Regions from separate parts of the Homo sapiens genome. Here region 2 is linked to region 1. Evidence: fine-mapped expression QTL. Tissue or cell type: whole blood. Region 1 holds a variant in brackets; the other region holds the start of a gene. All regions are shown on one strand. Distances are from middle to middle.

Region 1 (2,921 bases):
GCCTTTGTTAACACTGGGTCTCAAAAACAATTTCAAAAATGTTTGTCAAATCAATAGGGAAAATGGTATCTCATCAGTGGTTTAATTTGTATTTATTTGATTACTTGTGAGGTTGAATGTTTTTGTCTTACACTTGTTAGCTATTGGCATTTCTAATTTAATGACTTGCTTTTCTATATCCTGTACTCAATATTCTCTGAAGATGCTTGTTATTGATTTGTAGGACCAGTATCTCTATAAATGGATATTGAGTCTATGTGTTTTAAATATTTTTTCTAGTCTGCCATTGGCCTTTTATTTTTTGATCTGAAATGGTTAAAAAATATATGTAATTTAGGCCAGTTTTTCTTTTTGTGATTTCTCTGTTGCTATTTTTAAAATGTTGTTATTGTAGACATTATTTTTTGATACATATTTGTATGTATTTATAGGGTACAAGTGCTATTTTGATACATGCATGGAATGTGTAGTGATCAAGTCAGGGCATTTAGGATATTCACCACCTCAAACATTTATCATTTCTTTGTATTGGGAACATTTCAAGTCTTCTCTCCCAGCTATTTTGAAATATACAAGGTATTGTTGTTAACTATAGTCACCTCACTCTGCTATCAAACTTTACAGCTTTTTCCTTTCGTCTAAGTGTTTGTTTTTACTCATTAATCAACCTCTTTTCATCCCCCCCATCCACATACACACCCTTCCCGCCCTCTGGTATCTATCATTCTACTCTCTAACTCCCTGCGATCAAATTTTTTAGCTCTCACATATGAGTGATTTGTCTTTCTGTGCTTGGTTTATTTCACTCGACATAATGACCTCTAGTTCCATCCATGTTGCTGCAAATAATAGGATTTCATCCCGTTTTTTATGGCCAAATAGTATTCCATTGTGTATATATACATTTTCTTTATCCATTTTCCCCTTGATGGACACAGTTTGCTTCCATATCTATGCTATTGTGAATAGTCCTACATTAAATATAGGAGTGCAGATACCCCTTTGATACACTGATTTCCTTTCCTTTGGATAAATACCCAGTAGTGGAATTGCTGGATTGCATGGTAGGTCTACTTTAAGTTTTTCGAGAAATCTTCATACTCTTATCGTAGTAACTATGCTAACTTACATTCCCGCCAACAGTGTATAACAGTTCCCCTTCTCCACATCCTTGTCAGCATTTGTTTTTTTCCCTGATAATAGCTATTCTAACTGGGATAAGGTGATATCTCATTGTGATTTTGACTTGCATTTCCCTAATTAGTGGTGTTAAGCATTT[A/T]AAAAATATACTTATTGTGTATTTGTATGTCTCCTTTTGAGAAATGTCTATTCCGATTCTTTGCCCACTTTTAATATAATTATTTGTTTTTTTTTGGTATTGAGTTGAGTTTCTTGTATATTTTAGATATTAGTCCCTTGTCAAATGAATAGTTTGCAAATATTTTCTTTTGTTATTTTTGAGAAAGCATTTCCCAACTTGAAATTATATAAATACTTTCCTATATATATATTTTCTACTGCTTGTTTAGTTCCATTTTTTGCTTTAAATCATTACCCTGTAGACTTTATTTGGTATAATACAAGAAGTAGAAATTTAATTTAATTTATTTCAAATGATTCACTATTCAAAGATTAATCAATTTTTTATACCATTTCACATTACTTCTGCTATATTTGCAGATTAATTATAAAGGGAAGCACTGATCAAAAGTTGCACACTGGAGGCCCATGGCCATATCTAGCCTATGAATATATTTAGTTCAGAATATTTTTGAATTAGTTATCTGCATCTAAAAATCAGAAAGTTTTATACAAGAATCTGTTTTTACAAATTCTCCTTAAAAATCAGAATATCTGGCAACTCTAGACTCACAGTCTCCCTTGACAAAAATGTGCAGGAGCTGGGAGGCAATTGCTTCCCATCATCAGGAAAGGTCCCCACCAGTGTACTTTATTCATTTTTGTTGTCTGCCTAATCCCTGAAGGCATTTCAGGATGCTATTAAGTTTTGTATATTTATTTTGCAATTGGACACATTACACGAATTCTCTAATTAGTACTAACTGTTTTGTGGCTAATTTTCTTGGGGTTTCAAGTAATTATATCATCATGCAAAAAATTATAATTTTATCTTCTCTTTCCAAAATATATACTTTCTAATTCTTTCTTCTCGCCTTATTACAGTTGCCTAAAAATTTCTCACATTTTGAATAATCGTTATGACTGTTAATTTTAACTTTAATTTTTAACATGAGGAGATTGAGAGATGCCTAAATGGCTGGTTTGTTTCTGGGTGTGTCTGTTTCCAGGAGAGATTGGTGGGTGAGTCAGTGGACTGAGAGAAGAAGACTTGCCCTCGATGGGGGCAGGCATTGTCCAACTGGTTGGGGGCCTGGTTGGAACAAACAGGAGAAAGACAGCAGATTCTCTGTCTCTGCTGTCTTTCCTCTGGAGTGGGAGGCTTTTCCTCCTCTTGCCCTTGGACATCAGGCTCCAGGTTCTTTGGCTTTTGGACTCTGGGACTTGCACCAGTGACCTCCCAGGGCTCTCAGGCCTTTGGCCCCAGACTGGAGGCTGCACGGTCAGCTTCCCTGGTTCTGAGTTCCCTGGTTCTCTTTAGCTTACAGGTGGCTGGTCGTGGGACTTTGCCTCTGTGGTCATGTGAGCAGCCAATTCCCTCATAAATCCCCTCTCATATCCTACTGGCTCTGTTTCTCTGAAGAACCTTGACTAACACAAGGCTCATAATAGCAGGCATCTTTATACGGTACCTAATTTTAATGGGAATGCCCCTTGTGCTTGACTTTTAGGTATGAAGTAAGCATTTTTTTATTGTGTCAAGGAAGTATACTTTTTATAGTTCTCTGATGTTTTGATTTTGTATTAATATCAGTAATATATGTGGAATTTCATCAGACCAA
Region 2 (2,921 bases), 190 kb after region 1:
CATCACCCTGCCCCAGGCTTCAGTACCACTGAAAAATAAGGGGTCTGTACCAGGTCAGTCACACAGATCTTTGATCATTAAGGGCCATTTGAAAAATTATTTTTGGGCTGGGTGTGGTGGCTCATGCCTGTAATTCCAGCACTTTGGGAGGCTGAGGAGGGCGGATCACTTGAGGTCAGGAGTTTGAGACCAGCCTGGTCAACATGATGAAACCCTGTCTCTACTAAAAATACAAACATTAGCCGGGTTTAGTGGCAGTGACCTGTAATCCCAGCTACTCAGGAGGCTGAGACAGGAGAATCGCTTGAACCCAGGAGGCAGAGGTTACAGTGAGCTGAGATGCACCATTGCATTCCAGCCTGGGTGACAGAGCAAGACTCCGTCTCAAAGAAAAAAAAAAAAGGCAAATTATTTTTGTCTCACCAAACAGACCAAGGCCTTTTTTGAGGTTAAGGTGTGATTTCCTGCACATGTTTAGAAATATTGAAGAAATCTGCAGGCTTTGGAGCTCTCAGGGCCAGGAACTCAGGCAAGGAGATGAAACAAAGCAACCCAAAGTCCCTATGAGCCTCTGATGTAAACAATATCATCTTAATCTTTGCTGCACCCCATAAACCCTCATCCATGGCCCGGCAGTGTTGACCCATGTCATGTTGGCTGCTTGTTGACCAAGGAAGGGAACTCAGGCATCAGATGGATAGAGGGATCGCCCGGTGTGGAGGAGACCCCGTGTATCAGCCATCCCAACATCACACCACCGTCGGCCACCCCTAAGTCCACGTGGGCCACATTTAGCCTCTCTCATCCCTACTTAGTACTTGCCTCCCCTTATAAAGGCCTGTAGGGAGGGACCTCAGCTCCCCCACAGGCTGTTGAAAACACACTCTGCTGATTGTGGGGAACCCTGCTCTGCCCTGCCCTCTGCTACTCTCCTCAAACTCTGCAGAGTTTCTGCATGCTAACACTGCCGGGTCCTCACCATTCTCACAGCCGACTTTCTCTCCAAACCAGCAGTATCACCCACTGGCTCCGTTTTTACTGCTCTGGGCCACAAAACAGCTCATGTCTCACAGATAAGAATACCCCTCAAGCTGCCACCTCCTCCCTCCCAGGACCCTGCATCTCTTTGTATCTGCCTAGCTTAAAATGTTGCCCAAGAGCTTGTTCTAGTCTTTCCTACCCACCCTCAGCTTCTGGGTTCTCACCCAGGTCGAGGGATCCCTGCCCAGACGTCTGGCATAGGCAGCTGGGGAGGGGCCTTCAGCTCTCCGAGGACAGGCTATCTGCCTGCCCCACTTACCTTCCCAGAGAAGCAGACTCCACAGGGGCCTCATGACCATCTTTCTCTGGAGAGGCAGGCAAACTCCCTCGACAGCCAAAATCCAGAACCTCCCAGGCCGAGTGGATGCACGGGAGGAGCTGTGGTCCTTCTGGAAAGTCCCATGTTCAGAAGGAGGAATCTTGACTCAGAACAGGATGTCCCAAAAGTGAAAACATCCAGAATAAAGTGGAAGTTGTCCCTGGGCCTCTCTGGGCTTACAGGAGCAGATTCTTGTAAGTCAGCCTCTTTCACATGCACATGGTTGGCTAACACGTGGCGACAACAGCCCCCACACAAGCCACATCCTCCTTGCTGGATCTCGCTGGCCTTCCTGCATCTCAGCCTGCCTCACTACTATCTGTCATCCTCATTCTAGCTTAAAATGCTTCTGTGGCCTCCCGTGGACCTGAGGATGAGGACTAACTCTGCTCTGCATGCAGGCCCTCCTGAGTCAGGCCTTCTTCTCCAGGCTGGTCGCCCACAGTCATTCTGCCCTCCAGCCATCCCAAGCCAGAAGGCCTCCTTCTCAGAACTACTGATTTCACACTTCCCTGTGTTGTACTTTCCCCACCACCCCGACTAGGCATGCTGCTCCCTCTATCCTTGCAAACAGAACATGGCTGTGCAGTCGGCGAGGACATCCTTCCAGGCTTCCTGACCACAGGCAGGTGAGAGGCCCTCTCCTTGTGTCCTGTGCATGCCCACACCTCCCTCTTTACTCTTGCTGTGTTGTTGATGACAGTTTTCTGGTTTTCACAGACTGTTTAGCCAGTCTTTTGTTCCCTTCTGTGTTGCCCTCAGTGCTTGGCACATTACAGATGTTTCATGAGTATTTGTTAAGTGAGTGAGTACATTCTAGACATGGCTACACATCTGGCTTTATGTAAGCCTTGCAACTCTCCTCTGAGAGGATCATCTTGTTACCTGGTTAGAAATGGGAAAATGTGAAAACCAGAGTGAGGTTAGGCCCCTTGCAGAGCTCACAGAGAGGCAGAGCTGGAACTTGAACCTCAGCCTTTGAAGTGTGGTCTATTTTGCCACAGTTATCCCCTCCTCATCCTGTTTCTCTTCTCACTTCAAGTTTCTTGGTTTCTTGCCAGTGAAGGTTTTTAGAGGACGTGTTGCCCCTGAGGAAAATTCCTGCTAGTCTGGAGTGTGGCTCATCGTATCTGGTCCTGCACAGCCTCTCGCCTGTCAATCAAACTGGACACTGAGCTTTGGACTCAGCCAGGAACTAGGCATATAGGATGGGGTGGGGGTGGGTGGTGAGCAGGAGGATTTTGGGATAAGGTTTTTGCCCTCCAGGTACTCACAACCAAAATGTAGAGATAGGTACACCAAGGAAAGTGAAGGGTTATCTGCAGACAGACACCACTTTGTGCAAACAGGTAGTCAGTCCTCAGAAGTGGGTGGGAAAGAGGGCTTCGCGGATCTGGGCAGGGGACGCTTCTTGAGAAGGTGGAATTTGAGCTGTGCCTTGAAGATGGGCATGGTTTAGATAATATGAGGAAAGGAGAGAGCCAGAGGTTGGGGGTGGGCTCTGGGCAGGAGGGGAGAGCAGAGCGTGCAGGGATGTGGCTGTGGGAAAATACCAAGTAGG

What was found. PIP is the estimated chance that this variant, and not a neighbour inherited with it, causes the effect. A credible set is the group of variants that fine-mapping cannot tell apart.
Region 2: it holds the start of SLAMF8, and the variant in region 1 is the best candidate, but not a certain one, in a credible set for the expression of SLAMF8 in whole blood (INTERVAL, PIP 0.63).

What each region holds. Positions count from the first base shown.
Region 1 is chr1:160,011,685-160,014,605 of GRCh38, reverse strand. The region is part of intron 3 of LOC124904436 (a long non-coding RNA gene); the gene reads left to right. Among named protein-coding and RNA genes, the nearest start is that of PIGM, 19 kb to the left of the region's middle. The variant A/T (reference allele first, on the strand shown) is at 1,280.
Region 2 is chr1:159,825,318-159,828,238 of GRCh38, reverse strand. It overlaps SLAMF8 (SLAM family member 8), which reads right to left and starts at 1,366. Exons shown (of 5, transcript NM_020125.3): 1 at 1,301-1,366. The coding sequence starts at 1,340.